Homo sapiens: one gene and its partners. The protein of the gene in region 1 purifies or fractionates together with the protein of each later gene. This does not show direct contact. Each region holds a gene or a part of one and is shown in the gene's direction. Other genes may lie near its edges. The genes, in order: DLD, FBXW11, SUCLG2, PARS2, AIFM1, DLST and SERBP1.

Region 1 (3,500 bases):
AAAGGTAATAGGTCTTAAATTTATTGGAAATACTAAAGCATTATATAAAATTATCTTATTTAATTCTAACATCAATCATTGAAGGCAGTGTTTTCATCCCCATATTACAGAAAGGTTAAGTCATTGGGTCAAGTTCATACAACTACTCATTGGCCGTGCTGAGATATGAAGCCCAGAATGTCAGATTCCAAAGCTCAGGCTCTTTGCTTCATACATACTTGTCTTCCAGTATCACTAAATTCCGTCAGTTATTAAATCAATAGAATTTAGGAAGGTCAGTGAATACAATGTGAGTGTTACAGAACTCAGTTGTGTTTCTGTATGTTGTAATGAATAGAAAATAATAGAAAATGAAATTTGAGTATTTATGCCATTTTTCAGTAGCATCAAAGAGCATCAAGTAGTAGTAATAAAATAGTGCAGAAACTATGTAGAAAATGCTGATTTGTACTGTAAGAGGTTTAAGTATCGGGTTATTTGTTTGCTCTTCCAAAGAGCTCTTTTTGGTAAATATTAAGCAATTTACTATTTTATATCAATTTGCTTTTATCGTAGTTGATGCTGATGTAACAGTTATAGGTTCTGGTCCTGGAGGATATGTTGCTGCTATTAAAGCTGCCCAGTTAGGCTTCAAGGTAAGGTTTGAACTCAAACTAAGTATTGATTTATTTTAATTTGGGAAGGGTTGATCATATTTATAAAGTACTTTGCAGGCAAAAACATGGTAAATACTTCCTTAACTCTATAAATTACTTGTAAGCCTGAGACTAATAAAGATTAGGTTCATTTGGTTGTAGTATTCTCTTGGAATGGAAAGTGAAATCTATTAGTTTTCTTCTCTTCCCAGTACTTTTCATTTTGGCATCTAATCACACTTTGGAAGATACAGTGATAGAACTAAAAGCATATATTTGGTAATGTTAAGCACACAAAAATATCTTTTAGAATAATTCACTTTTGGGTCAGCCCAAAAGTGTTTATTATTATTCAAATGATAAATTATAAAGGACTATATATTTTAGTCTGTGAAAACATAGCCCGAATAGCTTGTTTTGTAGAAGAATTAAGACATATATTTGGAATTTTAGTGATCTGAAACATTGAGGTTATGTGCAGTTAAATAATGTTTTCTTTGGTTGTAGACAGTCTGCATTGAGAAAAATGAAACACTTGGTGGAACATGCTTGAATGTTGGTTGTATTCCTTCTAAGGTGAGCATGTGTTTTGTACAGCACAGAGATTGTTTTTGGCTAGCAACCAACTAGAAGGATGGATTGAGACTAGATTAGACAAATACACTTGTTAAAAAACAATCCAAGTTGTGGCACATTTCACACAGAGAAAAAAAAGAATGATAAAAAACACACTTCTCTTTTGTAAAACTTAAAGAGTGCTGTCACTAGTCTGCCACACATTCCTGAAATAACTTCCTTGTCTCAGAATGCCTAGCTTTCCATTCAAACAGACTCTGATGTTCTAGTTTTTTCTCTTTATCTTTCCTTCACCAGTGTAACAGATAATAGATAGTAAATTGTTCTTTTAGGTCCTTTTTGTATGTAAACATGACTGCCTTTTTCACCTGCCACCCTGAAGTGTGTACTTATGCCTTTACTTTTAAAGAAAGTAAAAATGTCTTTTTCATTCTTGTTTGTTGAATGTTTTTCACATCATTATTGTTTGTCTTTGATTAATAAGAGAAACTGAATTGGTGTAGTGCCATATACTATTCCATGTAGAGAATGCCATGTCTTTTTTTTAACTTCTTTTTAAATTTTTATTGTAAATTGACAAATTACAATTGTATATATTTATGGCATACAAAGTGGTGTTATGATTTATGACTATAATGTGGAATAATTTAGTCAAGTTAATTAACATATTCATTACCACAGTACTTATCATTTTTGTGATGAGAACATTTGAAAGAGAATATCGGCCGGGCGCGGTGGCTCACGTCTGTAATCCCAGCACTTTGGGAGGCCGAGGCGGGTGGATCACCTGAGGCTGGGAGTTTGGGACCAGCCTGACCAACATGGAGAAACCCCATCTCTACTAAAAATACAAAATTAGCCAGGCGTGGTGATGCATGCCTGTAATCCCAGGGACAATTGCTTGAGCCCGGGAGGCGGAGGTTGCGGTGAGCTGAGATGGCGCCATTGCACTCCAGCTTGGGCAATAAGAACGAAACTCCGTCTCAAAAAATGAAAAGAAAGACTATCATTTCATAAGTGCTTTTTGATTATTTGAAGTCTGTTTATGAATATTTGATAATTTGATCTTTTTAATTTCCTTTAGGCTTTATTGAACAACTCTCATTATTACCATATGGCCCATGGAAAAGATTTTGCATCTAGAGGAATTGAAAGTAAGTATACTTTTCATGCTTAATGATATTACCAGACTGCTTGACTTGGCTCTTCTGTCTAAAGACTTAAATGTGTCTAACGTACGCATAATAGATGTTTAGTGAAGGAAGAGTAAAATAAATAATCTAAAAAATGTGGAGAGATTTACTTAAAAAAGAAGGCCTAAATCCAGATTTCTCCCAGCCAAGTATAACCAAGCCTAACCCTGCAAATCCAGATTTCTACCATTATATCTTCTGTTCCTTTGCCAACTTTTTCCTGAGGTTTGCCTTTATGTGTTTTTGAAGAGTCAGTTTTCATTTCCTAAAATCTGGAAATCACTGAGAAGGCTGGATTCCTGAGTACTATGGGGAGATAGAGGAAGGAAGGAAGGCCCACTTAAGCTGTTGATAGTAGAAAAATTAGAGGAGAGAAAGAGTGAGGCATAGCGGAAAAGGAAGAGGACATTTCATAACGTATCTTGTCTCCTGACATACTTTTTGAGCTGTTTTAATCTTTTGTCTCCAATTATTGTTGTTGTTAGATACTTCCAGAAAGGTAGTCTCTTCTGGGCAGGACCTAGTCATAACCTTGGGTTGTTACTTTTCCTTCATTTGTTTCTTTACAGAGGTAGGTTTGAGGGGCTACTTAAGGCAATCCATTGGGTATAGAGATGATGTATATGCACTAAAGCAAATAGAATATCATACTAGTTGAAAAATGGAATGACGTAAAGAAAGAAGAGCTAGGGGTAGTCAGGAGACCTGCATTGTAGGCAAGGCTTTTACATCCTAGCTCTGTGACCTTGGGTAAATCAGAAATCTCTCAGAGTCTCTTTTTCCTTATCTCTAATATATGTGTTGGTTATATGAGGTACTTTCTAAGATACCCTTCTTACCTCTAAAGTTTAATTGAGTTGAGCATTTTTATCTAATACTGTTGCTTCAGAGTTCTCTTCTGAGTTGAATGAGTGATTAAAACCTAGGTGATTAAACTTTTTAATGTTAAGCTTCTGTATTTGAAATTTTTAAACGTGTATTTTTTATTTGTTTTGTTTCATGAAATCTAGCATTTTCCTTTATTTAAAATTTCAGATGATGTTTTACTTTGTCATTTCTACTTACATATCTTCCAGACTTATAACCATCGTAAAGT
Region 2 (3,500 bases), on another chromosome or scaffold:
GACAGAATAGAGAGATATGGACTGGGCAATGGCACATATAGATGACTACAGACCGGATGTCGCAGTGTGGGTGCCCTGGGCATATTGATGCGGCATCAGTGCTAGCTTGGAGGGAAATATTATAATAATAGGTACTAATAGCTAGTGTCATGGGTGCTGTCCTTGGTTCTGACCCGTTTAACGTGTTTGCCAACATGGTTTAACATGTTTGCCTTAGTACTTTAGCCCATCATGCAGGTCTGGTGTGGAATACCCACTCTTCTGGGTGTGACAAAAATCAGAATTCTAGAGACTGAAATGGATGGGTCAGACAAAGCTTTGAAGGTGAATTATAGTAAGGATAAATATAAACCGCACAAAGCTGCCCCCCACCTTTCCAACTAGCTGTGCAAATAGAGCATTCGGGGAAATTGTTTCAATAGATGTTTTTGGGGGAGAGGCCTGGGATTTTATTCTAACTTACTGCCATCTTAGGCGTCTTCTGTGATATGACTATCAGATGAAGGCAGTGCAGCCTTTGACCACATTAACTGTAAATGACATGCAGGAAAGGACAGTGGTCCCAGTGTAGTCTTTATTCTTAGACCATAGCTTGGGTCTTTGATCTAGTCCAGAGTAAGAGAATTTTAGTATATGAAGGACCTGGAAATTATAACCAATGGTATAATAATAGTCATTCTTAGAATTGAAGGAACTTTAGTTTGTAAAGCATTTTTCATGCATCATCTCATTTTGATATTTTCAGAATCAAGTAGAGATTATCGTAATCTTATACAGATGAGGAAACTGACTCTGAAAGTTTAATAATTTACCTACATCTGGCCTTTCAACAACCAAGTTTAGTGCTATTATACTACTTCTAATTATTTTGAGAAAAGAGAACAGATATTAACCTTGTAGAGTGCTTGTCTATAAAATGTTTTCATAAAACTGTTGAATTTGATTCTGACAGACAGTGTAAGAAAGGATAGTTGTTACTGGTGATTACCATTTTGTATGTTAGGGCACAAAAATTCAAGGCACAGGGATGTTTCAGTGTTTGTTTCATGTCATAGAACTAGTAAGTGGTGAACCTGGGACTTGAAATGGGAATTTTCTGATGATAAGTTCTGTGTTCTCGTCCCTACACAGAATAAGCTTGGGGAGAAGCTTTATTTCTTGCAACTGTAGAAGACATACTTACCGCCACAGGATGGGAGTTTACAGGTGGCAACAGTGGTGGCCATGTTGATCATCTTCCCATTGTGAATGTCAGGCAGAGGCTGAAAGTGGTTTTCTTTGAGAGTATCCTTGTATCGTGGGAGGTTGAAGCCAATGACCTCTAAGATTCTAGGATTTGTAGACATGGGGCTATTGCTTTTGAGGATTGTCCCATCTGTTTAGGAACAGAAAATGGATACTCACGAAAGGGAGATGAAAAGATTGACAAAAATACATTTAAGCACAATCGACTTTAATTCTTGGATTGCCATTTAACTTTTCATAAGTTTTTCAAGATGAGTCGGTGTTTTGCCTTTTTTGTCTTCTGATCTCCCAGGGATTCACACCGGGTATGGATTAATGGGGATATGATTTGTTATGAGAGACAGTGAGTAAGATGGGAATGAACACAAACTTTGAAGCAAGAAATCCGAGTTCCAGTAGTAAAGCCAAGGGAGTGTAAAATCTTGAGTTCTTTACCTTTCTGTGCTTCATCTGTCAAACTTGGGGCGTCATTGCCCTATAGGAGTGCTGTGAGAGTTATATAAAAGAAAATGAAAAGTCTTATCTTAATATTTGACAAATAACAGAACTGTCCAAGGTCAGCTTTTACACACAGAGAAGAGTTGCTATCAATTGTTTTATCGTAAAAAATCAGAACCAAAAAGAAGTGTATATGTTTATGTACTCATGGATTTGAGTATCTGTAGAACTTTTGATATGACTAAAATATTTTACTTGGTTCAGGATTTCTTTATTCCTCTTATCTTTAAGGAAATGATGGCTGGTACCTTTCTATCTCTCTTCCCGTTCCTTCATTCCCTTTTCTGTTTTGTAGAGCAAGGCTTAGATCACATAGCAGAAAACATTCTTTCGTACCTGGATGCCAGGTCTCTGTGTGCAGCAGAGCTGGTATGTAAAGAATGGCAGCGAGTGATCTCAGAAGGAATGCTTTGGAAGAAGCTGATTGAACGAATGGTACGCACTGATCCCCTATGGAAAGGACTTTCAGAAAGAAGAGGGTGGTAAGTACTTGGGTTGCTTGTTCCCTTGAAAAAATTTTATTGACATAGAGTCAGCTTGATTACTCAAAAATGCAATTATACTTGCAAATGTGCTGGCCTATTTTTAAAAAGGGGGGAAAATGAGTGGTCAAAAGTTGGAAGAAAAAGTTAAAGCTGTTAAAATTTCTCCCTCTGAAATGTGTATTTCCTTTATGAACTGTATTATATAGTTTGATGGGATTTGGCGTTTCAAAGCTATGTATTTATGTTTTTTCCTTCACATTTTGCTTAGTTGATGATACCATTACCAAAATATAGATATGACAAAAATATGAGAAAGTCAGATAGTGCCATTTTGCTGTTTGTTATTACTGCTGGTTGAGGAAGTAATAACAGTGATAGGATTTTTCAGAGAAAACTCATAACTCTGATGCAGCTTTATAGCTAGCTGTATGCTGTATGGCCCAGTTAGCAAAGAGAGAGAGCTACAGACAGAGGTGCATATAGGGCTGTATTTTCCTTACGGGAGGAAGTTTGATGTGTACTAAGTTAGATTTTTCACAAAGCTACATTAGCGCTTTTTATTAAACTCTATGGAATGAAAGGCTAGATTGTTACATATTAGTACTCAGAAAACACGATCAGGATTTTGTTAGAGAGCTGTGAATTGAGCTAAACTTGTCTGTAACATGTAAATTTGTCAGAAATCCTGCTTTTGAACTGTTAAAACTCAATGCAAATTAAAAGACATGAAAGATATATCTTTGTCAGCACCATGTTTAGATAAAATTCACCCTTTTATGTGCAAAAATGTAACATCTGTTTGTTTTTATTTGCCAGGGATCAGTACCTGTTTAAAAACAGACCCACAGATGGCCCTCCAAATTCATTTTATAGGTCATTATACCCAAAGATTATCCAGGATATAGAGGTAACTTTATGATTTATCTGTTTTATGGGCTCTTTGTTTCTTGTTCTCAACTTTTTATGTTGCCTTAGAGTGTTCTTTTGGTCTAAAATCGTAGAACTAATAATTTTTTTTAAAAAGTTGAGCTTTTGGAGTAAATGTGTCATGTTGTATATAATCTGCAGCTATTCTGCAGAGAAAATAATGTCTTTTGCAAAGAATATCTAACTTTTCTAAAACATGAAATGCTTCTGCAAGGCTGCCGGTTAATTCAAACCTTAATCTAAAATCATCTTTTTATTCTAAGCTGATAAATTTTCCAAAATCCAAGGCCCCGTTTTTTTAAGTAAGCATTGTTTTACATTTTTGAGCCATCTCTAGAGAACTAG
Region 3 (3,500 bases), on another chromosome or scaffold:
CACAGGACCGTTGTAGATATACACCCCTTTTATCCCATAGTCACCATCTTGAAGCTCTGGGTTAACTGCAAAGTTCTGTCAAGATTGTTCCCTGGAGAGAACGTCATACCACAGAAAAACATCCTCTGAAAATCTAGCTTTGCAGGCATTTAGTTGGGATTGCCTTTTGAACTTTGAATACATACCCATTAATTATTCTCTCTCTGAAGCAGCTTGTAACTGTAGTCTTTGTAAGGAGCAAAGGTCAGCTTGAAACTATTTTGATTTACTTGTTTATTGATCTCAACCAAGAATTCCTTTATTTGAAACTCTTCCCTTAGGAAGTCAATTTGATAACCTTAGCCCATTCATTTTGAAGGTGTCAGTTATAAGTAGTCTTGCCAATGAGTAATGGAGGAGCTAAAATTACTAATAAATTAATTAGAATGCATTTATAAACCTAGTGGAAAGCCATGTACGAAGTTGCTTTTTTATTGATTATTATACCAGTCATTAACTGCTGAGAAAATTCCCCTGTAGCAAGCAGAGAACATTGGCCAATTCGTTTGGTAATTGTAGGATTCTGTCAATAAGCTTTCAATATTTTGGAAAGTAATTACTCATTCACTCCAACCATTCACAATGTGTGGACAAAGTGGTTGGGCATTTTGGGGCAAGACTAAGGATTTAAGCAGACATTAACTTCCATATAAGATTCTCTCTTGTCGCTCAGTGCTACTTTAAGTCATGTGCGGTCTATATATATACTTATAACAAGTATTCTTAGATGTTAATATGCTGGTCTACACAGATTTGTATCAAAGTGCTTGAATATTGTGGTAGGGAAACCCTTGGAGAAAACCCTCTACCTGGGGTCTCTAACGCCAAGATGCCATATACAGCCATGTTTTATTTTCATAAGAAGCAAGTATAATTAGGAGATTATAGCCACTGCTTTTCAGTGAGTGAGAAATGTTCTGTGGCTGTTTCCCTTTCAAGAGTCAGGTGCCTGTCAGCAATGCTGGAGGAGAATAGGTAGTATCTGTAAATTATTGTTCAAAGATTCCTGGCTATCAATATCCCAAGTTAAGTAAAAGAACATTGGCCAGGTGCAGTGGCTCACACCTGTAATCCCAGCACTTTGGGAGGCTGAGGTGGGCAGATCACAAGGTCAGGAGATCGAGACCATCCTGGCTAACACGGTGAAACCCCATCTGTACTAAAAATACAAAAAATTACCTGGGCATGGTGGCACATGCCTGTAGTCCCAGCTGCTTGGGAGACTGAGGCAGGAGAATCGCTTGAACCTGGGAGGTGGAGGTTATAGTGAGCCGAGATTGCGCCACTGCACTCCAGCCTGGGCAGCAGAGTGAGACTCTGTCTCCGAAATAAATAAATAAATAAATAAATAAACAAACAAACAAACATTATGATGACATGGCATCACAGAACACTAATTTCTACACTAAGAGAGATAATAAAAGGGGTCAGATACCCAGATACCAATAATGCCACCCTCTCCACTGCAGTCTCTCCCTGATTGTATGTATAGGAGATCTGTAAATCAAGGAAAGTGCCCTGTAGTCTGTCTCCTATTATGGAATGAGTTTTGCTGGGTCCAGGAGATTTCCACCAGCTCCAGAAACTAGAGACAATTGTGCTAATAATGCCTGGCATCCTGGCTTTGTGACTGACCAGTCTTGGTCTTTTCGTGTCTTATAACTTGAATCTGAAGCACCATAAGATGGTCCTGCACGAATCAAGGGCATGGCCCTTGTTTTAAGGATTGTTATTGCCATTTTTTCCAATTAAAAAACCAAGGCCCAGAGAAGAACTAGGTTATTTTATCAAGGTTACAGAGTTAGTAATGTATGCTGGAAATTGCTAAAAGTATATATTTTAAGTGCTCTCCCACACCAAAAAGAAAAACCAAAAACTATATGAGAAGATGGATGTGTTAATTTGCTTCAGTGTAGTAATCATTTCACTGTGTTTAATTATTTCACTGTGTTATATGTATATCAAAACATGATGTTGTATGCTTTAAATACACAGTTGTCCCTCAATATATGCAGGGAATCGGTTCCAGGAATCTCAGATATACCAAACTTCGTTCATATTGCACAATTCCTGCAGTTGGCCTTGCAGAACCCATGTATGTGAAAAGTCGACCCTCTGGGGCTTTACATCTTGAGAATAAAAATCCAGCTATAAGTGGACCCTCACAGTTCAAACCCATGTTGTTCAAGACTCAAGTGTATACAATTTTTATTTTTAATAAATGTTACAGAGTTAGTTAAGGATCAAATAAAAATCGAGCGATTCTAGTCTGGCATTCTTTCCACTAAATCTTTTGGAAATACTAGACAGGATACTGATTCAATAAAAATTTCACTTTACCATATCAAGAAAAGGACAATAGGGGACAAAATAATTAATAATATTGTCTAGTCTCTCTTTACATAGAAGAGAAAGGTGATAATTAGTGGTTAAATACTAAAAATATATAATAAAAATAATGAATCAAAGCTGTATCTATGAAGCTGTGCCAGTCTGTAACTTTTAATGGTTGATGGCAACTTTTGGGGTTATTCTATTGAAATGAGAACAACAGGTAGAAATTACTATGTTCTTTACTAGAACGTAAGTCCCTTGACAACAGGGACCAAACCCTAAAATTTAAAGGTCAAGAAAGCCAAAGCAGCCTCTCCTGCCTGTAACATGTGAAAAAAAATGACAGTACTTAACTTTCCCTTCGCTTGTGCCTACCAGCCTGAAGAACTTAATTTATAGATCCTCAAGAGATATTCAAGTATGATTGTTTTCTTCTTTATTTAGTTGTCTGTTTTGATGCCAAGATAAACTTTGATGACAACGCAGAATTCCGACAAAAAGACATATTTGCTATGGACGACAAATCAGAGAATGAGCCCATTGAAAATGAAGCTGCCAAATATGATCTAAAATACATAGGACTAGATGGGAACATTGCCTGCTTTGGTAAGAAGCAGTTATATCAAAAGAATGCTTTGTGGATTCTTATAGAATTTAGGAAACCTTGATTTCTGAAATGTCACTTACCAAGAAGAAGTAAGCACATAAGTTTTTTTGTAGCTGAAAAGTCTTAGGAAAGTATCCAAGTTTCTTCTCAAAGTTGTTTTGATTAATGGTCACTGGTGTAAAGCAGAATTTCTCAACTCTGGCACTATTGGGAGTTTGGGTGGGATAATTCTTTACTGTCCTGTACATCATAAGATGTTTAGCATCCTAACCTCTAGATACTACTAACAACCCCCACTTGTGAAGACAAATAAACCCATGTAAATCAATAAATTAAAATAAATGTCTTCAGACAGTTCCAAATGGCTGTGGTATGCAAAAATCACCCCAACTGAGAAATATTGACTTAAAACATCTCAGTTAAACTTTGCTTAGTAAAAAATTAGAACCTTTGCTGCTCAACTCAGTATTAATATGCAGAACTCTTCTGAAATTTAGGTTTAAAACAAAATTCCTTTATC
Region 4 (3,988 bases), on another chromosome or scaffold:
TTGATGAGGTTTTTCCTGATCCTCCTATTTTAAATTGCAAACACTTGGCTGGGCGCGGTGGCTCACACCTATAATCCCAACAGTTTGGGAGGCCGAGGTGGGTGTATCACCACCTGAGGTCAGGAGTTCAAGACTAGCCTAGCCAATATGGTGAAACCCCATCTCTACTAAAAATACAAAAAGTAGTCGGACGTGGTGGGCACCTGTAATCCCAGCTACTCGGGAGGTTGAGGCAGAAGAATTGCTTAAACCCGGGAGAAGGAGGTTGCAGTGAGCCGAGAACGCGCCATTGTACTCCAGCCTGGGCGACAAGAGCAAAACTCCGTCTCAAAAAAACAAAGAAAAAAATTGCAAACACTTAACTCCCCCACTCCATTCTCCTTCTCTAATTTTTTCTTTATAGCCCTTATCACCATCTGACTGACAGATTCTTTTAAATTTTGATATTTTGTTTGCCATGGATTTTTTGCATTTTGTTTTTTTAAAAAAACAATTGTATTAAAATACTGTTTATCTTGGTTACTGAGTTCTTTGCTCCCATTCCCTGCCCTGCTTAAATTTCGCTCTATTGGTTTATTGACTGTGTCCTCTCTAGAACACAAGCTACACTGAACGCAGTTAATTTTGTCTGTTTGGTTCACTTCACTGTCCCCAGTGTCTACAGCAGTGGCTTCTACGTGGTAGCAGCTCAAAAAATATTTTGTGAATGGAAGTTTGAATCTGTGTCTTAAAGACTGTCTTGGGCACTGTAATAAAGGCGTCTTTCTCAAACTGTTTCACAATTTTATACTATTTAAATGGAAAGCCCGTAAAAATCATAGGATAGATTAGAAACTACACTGCCCAGTGTGTCGTCATGGTTACACTGTCGCCAGTGGTTCTCCTATTGGGGGAGTGGGCGGGGCCTGGCAGGGGCAGGAAGAGCACCCTCAAGTCATCATAGAGTTATACCTCCCAAGTTCCTAGAAAGTACTTCCGGAACGGTGATTTACTCAAGGCTGCCCTGGCCAATCAACGATCTTGGGGAAAGCCGGGTACTCGCTCTTTGGCTACACTTCCGGAAAACCTCTCACGCGCGCCTAGCGTGGGGCGGGGCCAGAGCGCCCCTGCCCTCGGCCCCGCCTCCGTGAGCGCGGCTTTGCAATTGGCGAAAAGGGCAGGAGGCGGGGCTTAGGAGCGGGCTTGCTCGAGGCGCAAGCGCGCTGGCCCGGCACGGCGGTGGTCTTGCGGGAGGCGTGGGCTGGGATTGCGGTAGGTGAACGTGGGTGACTCCCAGACCTGAGGGACGGGCGCGGGCAGCGAAATGAAGCGAGCACGCGGTGTGGGCGCGGAGACCTAGGACCCTGGTGTCCGTTTTCCCACTTGCATCCCGTCCTTGAGTTGGGGCGGGCGAGAATCCCATAAACTTTTCGATACTCCTGGTCTCCGTGTCCTCCGTTGTAAAATGAGGGCAGCACTTCCTGGTCTCTCCCTCGGTCGTCGTGAGAGTCACACAGTTCTCGAAGTGCCAGCTCTGGAAAGGCCCTGGGACCACCTGCTGCCTGAGCCAGCCTTCCCGTTTTATGTTGGAGAAAACGGAGGTCCGGGGCGAAGTGAGTGGTCCAGGGTCACCGAGCGAGTGAAGGCCGAGCTTGTTCTTAGAACTAGGCCTAGGGTTCCATTGCTGTTTAATGTAGCACAGTTCGTGATGGAAACTGTAGGATTTGGAGGCGGGGACCTTGCCTTCCAGGCCCGACCCTGCGCTTATTTGCTGTGTGGCTTGACACAAGTGACTTTATATTTCAGAGCCTCCCTTTTCTGAGTTGGGCATAATAATAATAATAATAGCACTTTGTGAGACTTAATATTATGTATCAGGTACGGTTGTAAACGCTTTAGGTACAACTTTTCTGATTAGATTGGGGGGCAATGGTGAGTCAAAGAATCTTTAAAAAGGCCTGGGCTGGAAGGGCTGACAGTGTCCCGACAGAGTAGGTACTCAAAAAAATCGACTGAATGTCTCAGAGGCTGTTTGCCAGAGCCTGAAGTGTTGCATACGTTAGTTACTGTATTGCTCCTGAAAAACTGAGATAATTCTACTTATTCTCCTGTTTGTATAAGCTGAGGGGTCTGAGGACAGACATGCTAAACGTGGAGGAGAAGAGTTTAAAGCTCTCGTTTAAATTATCCAGATAATTATATCATTGCACCTGTTTGCTTTGCTCTTAATTTATTAACATATTTGATCAACAGATAATAATAGCCTAAATAGTAGGCATTATGCGAGACTCTGAAATTTAAAGATGTATAAAACTTCATAAACTTGTAATTTCATCAAGGAATAGAATGTTAAACATCGACACTGACCTCCCCTCCTGGCCCCCGTACACACCCCCAGAAAGAAAAAAAATTGTATGTGAAACACCATTCGCTTCCAATGCCTGGCACACAATAGTTCCTCAAAAATATTTTTGGAGATGATTCTAATACAGTATACTAAAAAGAGGTGTGTGCAGTGGAGCACAGAGGAGGTGACTTTCTCTGTTTAGAGGGGTTGGAGAAAGTTTCTTGGAGTAAGTGAACCTTGAATTCCAGTTGGAATTGCTGGGGGTTGGGGGGAGGTCAGTCTGTTTCAAGAATAATGAGCAACTTGGGGAATGCTAGGATAAGAAGCTGGAAGAGGTGTGTTGGGATCAAAATGTGAAGAGCTTTGGTGCCATTCTGAGAAAATTATGAGAGCCAGCCGTTAATGGATTGTAAACAGGGGAGTGATTGGGTCAGCTATCTTTTTAGCTGGAGACTAATACGGAGACTGGACTGACAGGGTTCAAGAATTACTCCATTCATTCATTGATAGAACATGTATTGAGCCTGGGCACAGTGGCTCACACCTATAATCCCAGCAATTTGGGAAGCTGAGGCAGGTGGATCGCATGAGGCCAGGAGTTCAAGACCAGCCTGGGCAACATAGCAAGACTCCATCTCTATTTTTTAAGAAAGAAAAAAAGGAACATGTTATTGAGTGTCCACTGTGTCCAGGCACTGTGCTGAATGCTGCAGATAAAACTTGGAATAAAATAGACATAGCTGTCGTCTTCATGGAGTTTAAGACATTAGTCATTGGTGGTACACAGCTAGACCCCTGCAGTGGTTCTCCCAGTGGGGTCCCTGGACCAGCAGCATCTGTGTCACCTGGGAACTTGTTAGAAATACAGGTTCTCTGCCCACACCCCAAACTTACTAAATGAGAAGCTCTGGAGATGGGCCTCTGCAATCACTGTTTTAACAAACCCAACCGGGCATGGTGGCTCACGCCTGTAATCCCAGCACTTTGGGAGGCCGTGGCGGGCTGATCACTTGAGGTCAAGGAGTTTGAGACCAGCCTGGCCAACATGGTGAAACTCTGTCTGTACTAAAAATATGAAAAATAGTTGGGCATGGTGGCACATGCCTGTAATTCCAGCTACTCAGGAGGCTGAGGCAAGAGAATCTCTTGAGGCTGGGGGTACGGAGGTTGCAGTGATCTGACATTGCACCACTGCACTCCAGCCTGGGTGATAGAGTGAACTCTGTCTCTAAAAAAAAAAAAAAAAAAACAAGCCCTCCAGCGATTCTGATGCTCAATTAGATTTCAGAACCACTGGGTAACTGTAATGTAGCAAGTGGTATTGAGGGGCTAACCTAATGTTGAGGCAGTAAGGGCCAGAAAGGAGGGGGTGGACTTAAGGGAAACCTTGAGACAGACTCATTTGCTTTAGGAGGAATCAAGGATGAGTTTCTGGCTGGAGCCACTGCCCTAAGTAAGGTTGGATCACAAGGAAGTTATAGAGCCAGGGGTGAATCCACATGTGCCTTGCCTCCATGGCCCGTACGTTCCTACAACACCACACTAGGGCTCTGTGGCAGTGCCTGACCACCTTTAAACATTTGTACAGTGCACAGGGGAAATGAATGAGGCTGCTTGAGGTTGGAGGGGACAAGCTGGAGGACCTGAGGCTGCTAGAGGTAA
Region 5 (2,990 bases), on another chromosome or scaffold:
CCGTGTCATTCCTTACAGTCCCTTGACAGAACACCCTCTTCTCTCTTCTTAGGAGTGATTTGGGCCCCGATGTTGGCTATGAAGCTATTGGTCTTGTGGACAGTAGTTTGCCCACAGTTGGTGTTTTTGCAAAAGCAACTGCACAAGACAACCCCAAATCTGCCACAGAGCAGTCAGGTAAGAAAGTCCTAGCACTCCTCTTGGAGAGTGTTGAGAAGCAGTGGTCCAGATTCTCCTGAACAAGGGGTTTCTGTATTGGCCAGAGGGGCTTGTCAGTGAAAGCCTCTCTTCATGTTGTGCTTTAAAAGAAACCAAACCCCAAGTCCTCACTCTTTAGTGGTCTGAGATTTGGCAAAATCAGGTATCCTGGTCAAAGCATAGATTCAAATATTGTGGGTATCTGTCCTAGACAGTGGACAGTGGCTAGCTCAATGACACTGCTGTTTTGTGTGTCTCTGGGAAGACCTTTCTAAGGAAGAAAACAAGAAAACCTGAACTTTTTAGATTGCGTTTTTATTTTTCTTTCTTTCAGTTGTCATTTTTATTATTTTGCTTCAGGCGAATCTCAAGAACACGGCCTGATAGGCTTAGCTTAAGACTGGCTATCCTCCATGGGTCCTGCGCAGGGAGGAACTGGGCTGAGTAGTTATTTAGCTGCCTCCCATTCCATTTGGCAGATCTTAGTGCCAGGTTTTCTTTAGATGGGAGGCACCTCTCTTGGAATGGACTTCTCTCCCACACATGTCTCTTTCATTAACTCCGAGACCTTATTCCTTGACCTTAGCTCAAGTTATTTAACTTCTGCATCCTTTTGCCAGAGGTGTCTCAAGGGCAAGGTGCTGTTTAAGAAGGAGAAAGCAAGACATTATATGGATATGTAGGTCCTTTTCCTGTGTAATTCTAATGTATTCCATATTCCTTAATTCTGATCTCTCCTAGTAACCTAGTAAGTGGATTCATGTCACTGCTTTGTCGACTGGACAGTATTATTTGGAGGCTGGTGGTTCTCAGCAAGGTGCCCCCTTCCTATGCCACCCTTCCCTTCCCCTCTTTCTCTAGGAAGAAATGCCTCCACTATGGTTTTTCCAAATGGAAGTGCCTTCTGCTTTGTCTAAAGTACCTGTCTAATAGCACTGTCCAATAGAACTTTCTGCTGCGATGGAAATGTTCCATCTCTGCTCTGTCCAGTACGTTAGCCACCAGCCACATGTGGCTTTTGAGCTCATGAAACATGGTGAGTACAGATAAGGAACTGAATTTTACATCTTACTCAGTTTGAAATGATGTTCATTTACATGGCTGTGGCTAGTGGCTACTGTATTTGGACCATGCAGCTCTAGAATTATTTCTTAGAGGACAAGAACCAGCCTTCTGCAGTTTGAAGAAATCCAGATACCAGGAAATATTCATAGCATGAATTTAAAATGAGATAATAAGGGAGGGAAGTTTAGGGTCAGACTGACCCTGTGCCCAGGAGCTGGCAAGGAAGACCTTTCCTTGGCTTTGTCACTGGAGAGGGGCTGGTGAAGGCCAGGGTTTACTGAGGGGGCATAGAGAAATAAATCCTCTAGAAGTAGCTTGAAGCAGGCCTCGAAAGACTGTTGGCTTCTAGAATTTCCCAAGCTCATAATAACTGAAGTTTTGATTTTGCTTCCATGTTTATTTGTTTTGGGGGCTGGCCACAGGAACTGGTATCCGATCAGAGAGTGAGACAGAGTCCGAGGCCTCAGAAATTACTATTCCTCCCAGCACCCCGGCAGTTCCACAGGCTCCCGTCCAGGGGGAGGACTACGGCAAAGGTGTCATCTTCTACCTCAGGGACAAAGTGGTCGTGGGGATTGTGCTATGGAACATCTTTAACCGAATGCCAATAGCAAGGAAGGTAGGTGCCTGTCATAACTCTTAGAGGAAGATGGGAAGTACGGCTTAGAAACATTCCTGTAACTTCATCGGGTGCCCTGAGATGCATTGTCCCCCGGCCAGGTCAAATTGTGCCTGAGCAGAACAAAGGTATAGCCTTGGCTCAGGAACATTCTTTTTCACTTGGGACTTGGCTGGGTGACCTGGGAGTTGGCAGGCTGCTTGTTTGGGGTTAGTAGAGAACTGTTCCCACAACTCCCTCCCAGTGTGATATGGGGACTGCCCCAGGTAGCCCCATTGTGTGGGCATGGCCTGAACGCAATGGAGTAAGTTAGGGACCTATTGTTACTCTCTCTCCCTCAGATCATTAAGGACGGTGAGCAGCATGAAGATCTCAATGAAGTAGCCAAACTATTCAACATTCATGAAGACTGAAGCCCCACAGTGGAATTGGCAAACCCACTGCAGCCCCTGAGAGGAGGTCGAATGGGTAAAGGAGCATTTTTTTATTCAGCAGACTTTCTCTGTGTATGAGTGTGAATGATCAAGTCCTTTGTGAATATTTTCAACTATGTAGGTAAATTCTTAATGTTCACATAGTGAAATAAATTCTGATTCTTCTAAATTAAATTCTGTTCTCTTGTCAAGGGGGCAGGTGGGTGAAGGTGGAAAGCCACGCATATTAGAAAGCAAGCAAATTGCAGCACCGACCAAGCACAGGATTTTTCTCAGCCATGTATTCATGCCCTACTCCAGACGCAAAACTCCTTTCATTTCCGAACTTCCCTCACCCCTCCAGACCTCTTTGCACACACCTGCTGTGGCCTCGGCCCACAACACTTGACTCCCCTCCTCTCCTCTCAGGAAGTTCACTATCTCTGAAGACTTTCCCAGCCTTCCAAGCCTCATCCTTGTGTATGTGTCTCCCTGCTAGCCCATGACTTCCTGGAAGCAGAAGCCCTGATGTTAAGGCCTTGCTCATGGTTTTATCTCCAGAGCTTAGCACAGGGTCTGCTTCATAGTAAGTGCTTCATAGATCATTGTCGAATGAGTGAACAAATAAATGTATGGAATAGACTTTGTTTACCTGGAACAACTCCTGTCCCAGAACTGGATTGGGTCCTGCAGGG
Region 6 (3,500 bases), on another chromosome or scaffold:
ATGCAGTTAACTATGATAAGGACAGCTGGTGGGCAGAAAGGGTCTCTCACCTTGTTGAGAGTGACCAGGGTGGAAGACTTCAGAAAGGCATGGGAAGTCAATAAACTGAAAGATGGGGACATGATTTTCTCAGCTCTAGGACAAACTGGAGACCCCGAGCCTAAAGTAGCCAAGTCTTTGCTACTAGGATTCAGGTGATAAGATTTCCAACCCAATCTTTTCAAACCCAGACCAAACATCCTCCTTGCTTCTCAAATTGGGTTATGTATAGTCACAGGATAAGCCATCCCATGTCTTTCTCAAGCTTCAGTTGTATTTGAAGACTTGGCGAGTAGAGACATTTTATTATGAAAACATACAGGAATAATGAAAAGTTCTGGCTTTTTAAGGTAGATGAGATTATATAATCACTTTGGGCTGTGCCATCAAATTTTTTCTCTTTCCTCCCCAGCCAAACACATACCCACTCGATCTCACATACCCATTTGCTCTCTGCCACTAAGGCTACTTTGGAAAAGTTTGAGAAGCAGGACTCTATGATAAAGATTATATCCGTTGCCGTTGATCCTGCTCTGTCTCAGGGTTGGGGGTGAGCAGACCTTTTCCATTCCCAGCATGTATCCTTTGTGAGATAAGAGTTGTTGGTTAAGAGTTATTTTGTTTCTTGCAGGGGTCTCCTTATGCCAGGGACCAGGTTACCCTAACAGCAGGAAGGTTGTGTAAGTATCACTGGGGAGTACAGATATGTGGCCACGGGTTATTTATTTAAAGACATAAAGTTCTAAATTTGACCATCTGATTTCTTCACTGGCCTCCAGACCTAGAAATTGAGGTGATTATGTTGAGTCCCTAGACTAACCTCAATGTTCACTTTTCCCATGTGATGTTCCTTGAGCATCAGCTCCGTGTCAGGTTTTGGACTGGGAGTGTGCCCACTCTCCACAGGTGTTTGGATTATAATGAAAGTTAAGTTGGAATCCTCTTTTTATGGGATATAGAAGGGTGCTCCTAGATATTCTGTTTGGATGTAAGTGCAGCTGAAAGGCTCGAGGTTACATTTATTGTGGAGATTGAGAGCATCCTCTCAGTAGCATAGTTACTCATTTTTAAAAACAGTAAAAGCATAAAACTGGTTGAGTCCTGGGACTGACTGACTAGTTTGGAGGGAATGCTGTTATTGCATAATGCAGAGTTTGGAGAAAGGCTACCCATGTGTGTTTCAGATTAACTTCTGCGTATGAATGTTGCTTAAATGCTGCTTTGCATTCCAAGTGTTTTTGTGGTGGTGCTAAGAGAATGCTCTCTAGTAACCTGTTCAGCAGCTGTCAGGCTGCTTACTCTACAGGGAGAATCCTCAAAGTGAAGAGGTCAGCGGATGAGCTTCTTACTTACTCTACATCACAATGAGGGTTTTTGTTGTTGTTGTTTTGAGACAGGATCTTGCTCTGCCACTTTGGCTGGAGTGCGGTAGCCTGATCTTGGCTCACTGCATCCTCAGCCTCCTGGGCTCAAGAGATCCTTTCACCTCAGCCTCCTGAGTAGCTGAGACTACAGGCACATGCCACCATGCCCGGTTGTTTTTTGTATTTTTTGTAGAGATGGGGTTGTTTTGCCATGATACCTGGGCTGGTGTCAAACTCCTGGGCTCAAGCAATCCATCCACTTGCCTTAGCCTCCCAAAGTGGAGGATACAGGCGTGAGCTATGGTGCCTGGCTGATTTTTTAAAATTTGAGTAAATGTTGCACTCAGTACTAGAAATATGAATCCCGGTGTTATTTTGGAGGGCAGTTTGATAGTCATAAGTCTTTGAAGTGTGTGTACCTTTTCTTTTTTTCTTTTTTTCAAGATGGAGTCTTGCTCTGTCACCCAGGCTGGAGTGCAGTGGCGCGATCTCGGCTCACTGCAGCCTCTGCCTCTCGGGTTCCAGCAATTCTCCTGCCTCAGCCTCCTGGGTAGCTGGGATTACAGGCGCACGCTACCACACCTGGCTGATTTTTGTATTAGTAGAGACGGGGTTTCATCTTGTTGGCCAGGCTGGTCTCTGAAACTCCTGACATCAGGTGATCCGCCCGACTCAGCCTCCCAAAGTGCTGGGATTACAAGCATGAGCCACTGCCCGGCCTGTGTGTTCCTTTTCATCTAGCAATTCCATCTCTAGGAATCTATACTGAAGAACTCCTGGTATATTTATCTCAGATTTAATATCTGATAATATAAATATTATCAGATTTATCTTAAAATGGCAAAGAGCAAGGGATTGGCTAAACTATAGCATGTTCACATGTTCACACTATGAAAAGTGGGAAAAAGCAGGTTACAAAATAATTTCATTTTCTACTGTGTGGTATGATCCCATTGTAAGTATTCTTTTTGCTATTTCTAATATTCTGTAGTGAACATCTAGTTATTTAGAGATTCAAAATGTATTACTCATCTGCAATCAAATGAAAATTGGGGCAATCATGACTCTCTACAATAAATACACTAAATATTTGAAAGTAAATAATGAAGAAAAAGTAAACTTTGTGTGGGATCACCCCAATCATGTCACCCTAATCCAGTATCTTTGTGTGTGTTGTGCCTTTTTTGTGAATAAGGTACCCACTTTATTTAATAAATCTTTTATTGTAAAACAATTTTTGGTTTTATGTTTTTACTAATAGTATTATATTTACATGATTAAAAATTCAAAAAGTAAAAAGGGTGTCCATGAGAAGACTTTTTTATCCTTGTCCTCTAGCCCCCCGAATGCCTCTTGGGTAGTGGTGGCCACCACTCCGGGTTCCTGGATGACTTGCAGAGCAGCCTCTGCACTTGCATGTTACCTGTTAGTTCTTGCCTATAGGCATGTACTTTACAAGGTTACAAACTATATGTAGAACAATTTGTATTCTTGTAGTTTTTAAATATCTTCATTTTTTCTTGGTTATACATAGACCTTATAGTTATTTTGACATTATAAAAGTAAAAATACCTAAAGACAACTTAAATCTCTTTTACTTTTCTATTATAAAAATGCTTGTTGTGGAATATTCAGACAATCCTGAAGTGTAAAAAGTGAAAGTCCCCATCCAAATCATTCTCCCAAATTGTGTAAGTGTGCAACACATAACCAGAGATACCATATATGTCTACATCTCTCACCCCTCAGAGGTAACCACTGTTAATGGCTTTGTGCATACAGGGTGAGCTGATTCTCCAGTTTATATTATTTACTGTAAAGGCCATATCAGTAAACGCCTTGGTCTTTGAGGTTCGTTTTGAATGAATCCAGAATGTGTTGATGTGCTGTTTTCTAGCAAGAGAACCGAGTAGGAGATACCATATGGGGTTTGTGTGTGGTTTTTTTGTTTTTGGGTTTTTTTTTTTTTTTTTTGGCATAACACCTTGTTTTACTTCCGAGTTAACCTTGTTAATCTTGCTGCCTTATCTGATCTAAATCTGTTATCTTGAGGGCAGAAATTCCATTATACCTTGCACAATGGCTTGTACCCTGGGC
Region 7 (3,046 bases), on another chromosome or scaffold:
CGCTGGGATTACAGGTGTGAGCCACTGTGCCTGGCCAACAGTAAGATTTTTTTAGAGTTCTGTCTTAATGTAGACACTAGCTAACAATGTAATTTTGAAGAACTGAGAACTGTGGTTAATTTTGGTTTTTCTTTTTCAGTCAAGTGCTTCTGCTCCTGATGTGGATGACCCAGAGGCATTCCCAGCTCTGGCTTAACTGGATGCCATAAGACAACCCTGGTTCCTTTGTGAACCCTTCTGTTCAAAGCTTTTGCATGCTTAAGGATTCCAAACGACTAAGAAATTAAAAAAAAAAAGACTGTCATTCATACCATTCACACCTAAAGACTGAATTTTATCTGTTTTAAAAATGAACTTCTCCCGCTACACAGAAGTAACAAATATGGTAGTCAGTTTTGTATTTAGAAATGTATTGGTAGCAGGGATGTTTTCATAATTTTCAGAGATTATGCATTCTTCATGAATACTTTTGTATTGCTGCTTGCAAATATGCATTTCCAAACTTGAAATATAGGTGTGAACAGTGTGTACCAGTTTAAAGCTTTCACTTCATTTGTGTTTTTTAATTAAGGATTTAGAAGTTCCCCCAATTACAAACTGGTTTTAAATATTGGACATACTGGTTTTAATACCTGCTTTGCATATTCACACATGGTCAACTGGGACATGTTAAACTTTGATTTGTCAAATTTTATGCTGTGTGGAATACTAACTATATGTATTTTAACTTAGTTTTAATATTTTCATTTTTGGGGAAAAATCTTTTTTCACTTCTCATGATAGCTGTTATATATATATGCTAAATCTTTATATACAGAAATATCAGTACTTGAACAAATTCAAAGCACATTTGGTTTATTAACCCTTGCTCCTTGCATGGCTCATTAGGTTCAAATTATAACTGATTTACATTTTCAGCTATATTTACTTTTTAAATGCTTGAGTTTCCCATTTTAAAATCTAAACTAGACATCTTAATTGGTGAAAGTTGTTTAAACTACTTATTGTTGGTAGGCACATCGTGTCAAGTGAAGTAGTTTTATAGGTATGGGTTTTTTCTCCCCCTTCACCAGGGTGGGTGGAATAAGTTGATTTGGCCAATGTGTAATATTTAAACTGTTCTGTAAAATAAGTGTCTGGCCATTTGGTATGATTTCTGTGTGTGAAAGGTCCCAAAATCAAAATGGTACATCCATAATCAGCCACCATTTAACCCTTCCTTGTTCTAAAACAAAAACCAAAGGGCGCTGGTTGGTAGGGTGAGGTGGGGGAGTATTTTAATTTTTGGAATTTGGGAAGCAGACAGCTTTACTTTGTAAGGTTGGAACAGCAGCACTATACATGAAATATAAACCAAAAACCTTTACTGTTTCTAAATTTCCTAGATTGCTATTATTTGGTTGTAAGTTGAGTATTCCACAGAAAGTGGTAATTATCTCTTCTCTCTTCCTCCATTAGAAAATTAGGTAAATAATGGATTCCTATAATGGGAGCATCACCACTTATTAAAACACACATAGAATGATGAATTAAAAAAGTTTTCTAGGATTGTCTTTTATTCTGCCACATTTATTGATAAACAGTGAAGGAATTTTTAAAAAATTTTTAAGAATTGTTTGTCACGTCATTTTTAGAAATGTTCTACCTGTATATGGTAATGTCCAGTTTTAAAAATATTGGACATCTTCAATCTTAAACATTTCTATTTAGCTGATTGGTTCTCACATATACTTCTAAAAGAAACTTTTATGTTATAAGAGTTACTTTTTGGATAAGATTTATTAATCTCAGTTACCTACTATTCTGACATTTTAGGAAGGAGGTAATTGTTTTTAATGATGGATAAACTTGTGCTGGTGTTTTGGATCTTATGATGCTGAGCATGTTCTGCACTGGTGCTAATGTCTAATATAATTTTATATTTACACACATACGTGCTACCCAGAGATTAATTTAGTCCATATGAACTATTGACCCATTGTTCATTGAGACAGCAACATACGCACTCCTAAATCAGTGTGTTTAGACTTTTCAAGTATCTAACTCATTTCCAAACATGTACCATGTTTTATAAACCTCTTGATTTCCAGCAACATACTATAGAAAACACCTGCTACTCAAAACACAACTTCTCAGTGTCATCCATTGCTGTCGTGAGAGACAACATAGCAATATCTGGTATGTTGCAAGCTTTCAAGATAGCCTGAACTTAAAAAGTTGGTGCATTAGTTGTATCTGATGGATATAAATTTGCCTCCTAGTTCACTTTGTGTCAAGAGCTAAAACTGTGAACCTAACTTTCTCTTATTGGTGGGTAATAACTGAAAATAAAGATTTATTTTCATGCTCACTTCTTAAAAGTCATAAAAACAATCAAATAGGATCATGTTTATTGTCATGTGTTTCCTGGTTTCTGACCTGTGTGCACACCCCTGTGTGTTTATAATTTTTAAATTGAATTTTATATGGGGTTTTTATTTGCTAAAAACCAGGCTGTTGAATCACATTTGGGAAGGGTACTTATCTTAATGACTAATGACTTAATTGGGAAAGTTGAATTCTTGTAAAATACAAAATCCAAGGACTTCTTGGATTTAATCTGATTGTCACTTCTTAGCAGATCACTTTTTTGATAATGAAAGTTAAGCATACTGAATGCTACTTTTGATTGACAAACTGGCTATAATAGTCTAGGGGAAAAATCCCTAAACAGATAAAGATTCCTAAAGTAATGGTGGCAGCTGATGTTTCAGTGAACTTTTATCTTGATGCGTTTAAATGGAAGTAATGCCAGACCTGAGATTTTTAAGGCATTTTTACAGCTTGTATTGAAATGATTGGAGACATGGTTTCTTTATTAGCTATTTTGAGACCTGTGGAGTTAAGCAAGACTTTTAAAAATTGGCACCATATACATCTAGTTAGTTCCTTTACTCTTATTTTTTTAAATAAAAGTAGTACACATCATTTCCAGGGTTGTAAATATATTTGGGGCTTGTTTTTGGTATGGATTTAAAAGGAGGATATTAAGTATTCATTCTAATTT

Evidence for each region.
Region 2: the proteins of DLD (region 1) and FBXW11 purify together in Homo sapiens (affinity purification with mass spectrometry; 3 studies listed by BioGRID and IntAct, with this or other methods). This does not show direct contact.
Region 3: the proteins of DLD (region 1) and SUCLG2 purify together in Homo sapiens (affinity purification with mass spectrometry; 2 studies listed by BioGRID, with this or other methods). This does not show direct contact.
Region 4: the proteins of DLD (region 1) and PARS2 purify together in Homo sapiens (affinity purification with mass spectrometry; 3 studies listed by BioGRID and IntAct, with this or other methods). This does not show direct contact.
Region 5: the proteins of DLD (region 1) and AIFM1 purify together in Homo sapiens (affinity purification with mass spectrometry; 2 studies listed by BioGRID, with this or other methods). This does not show direct contact.
Region 6: the proteins of DLD (region 1) and DLST purify together in Homo sapiens (affinity purification with mass spectrometry; 5 studies listed by BioGRID and IntAct, with this or other methods). This does not show direct contact.
Region 7: the proteins of DLD (region 1) and SERBP1 purify together in Homo sapiens (affinity purification with mass spectrometry; 2 studies listed by BioGRID). This does not show direct contact.

The regions. Positions count from the first base shown.
Region 1 is NC_000007.14:107,901,183-107,904,682, forward strand, and holds part of DLD (dihydrolipoyl dehydrogenase, mitochondrial isoform 1 precursor), read left to right. Parts: intron 1-555; coding exon 556-635; intron 636-1,142; coding exon 1,143-1,211; intron 1,212-2,295; coding exon 2,296-2,365; intron 2,366-3,500. UniProt on the Homo sapiens protein: Lipoamide dehydrogenase is a component of the glycine cleavage system as well as an E3 component of three alpha-ketoacid dehydrogenase complexes (pyruvate-, alpha-ketoglutarate-, and branched-chain amino acid-dehydrogenase complex).
Region 2 is NC_000005.10:171,898,639-171,902,138, reverse strand, and holds part of FBXW11 (F-box/WD repeat-containing protein 11), read left to right. Parts: intron 1-2,038; coding exon 2,039-2,225; intron 2,226-3,044; coding exon 3,045-3,135; intron 3,136-3,500.
Region 3 is NC_000003.12:67,497,613-67,501,112, reverse strand, and holds part of SUCLG2 (succinate--CoA ligase [GDP-forming] subunit beta, mitochondrial isoform 2 precursor), read left to right. Parts: intron 1-2,817; coding exon 2,818-2,979; intron 2,980-3,500. UniProt on the Homo sapiens protein: GTP-specific succinyl-CoA synthetase functions in the citric acid cycle (TCA), coupling the hydrolysis of succinyl-CoA to the synthesis of GTP and thus represents the only step of substrate-level phosphorylation in the TCA.
Region 4 is NC_000001.11:54,761,724-54,765,711, reverse strand, and holds the start of PARS2 (probable proline--tRNA ligase, mitochondrial precursor), read left to right. Parts: upstream 1-1,188; 5' UTR 1,189-1,251; intron 1,252-3,988. UniProt on the Homo sapiens protein: Mitochondrial aminoacyl-tRNA synthetase that catalyzes the specific attachment of the proline amino acid (aa) to the homologous transfer RNA (tRNA), further participating in protein synthesis.
Region 5 is NC_000023.11:130,128,862-130,131,851, reverse strand, and holds the end of AIFM1 (apoptosis-inducing factor 1, mitochondrial isoform AIF precursor), read left to right. Parts: intron 1-52; coding exon 53-177; intron 178-1,685; coding exon 1,686-1,882; intron 1,883-2,223; coding exon 2,224-2,295; 3' UTR 2,296-2,490; downstream 2,491-2,990. UniProt on the Homo sapiens protein: Functions both as NADH oxidoreductase and as regulator of apoptosis.
Region 6 is NC_000014.9:74,884,916-74,888,415, forward strand, and holds part of DLST (dihydrolipoyllysine-residue succinyltransferase component of 2-oxoglutarate dehydrogenase complex, mitochondrial isoform 1 precursor), read left to right. Parts: intron 1-670; coding exon 671-719; intron 720-3,500. UniProt on the Homo sapiens protein: Dihydrolipoamide succinyltransferase (E2) component of the 2-oxoglutarate dehydrogenase complex. The 2-oxoglutarate dehydrogenase complex catalyzes the overall conversion of 2-oxoglutarate to succinyl-CoA and CO(2).
Region 7 is NC_000001.11:67,410,357-67,413,402, reverse strand, and holds part of SERBP1 (SERPINE1 mRNA-binding protein 1), read left to right. Parts: intron 1-139; coding exon 140-196; 3' UTR 197-3,046. UniProt on the Homo sapiens protein: Ribosome-binding protein that promotes ribosome hibernation, a process during which ribosomes are stabilized in an inactive state and preserved from proteasomal degradation.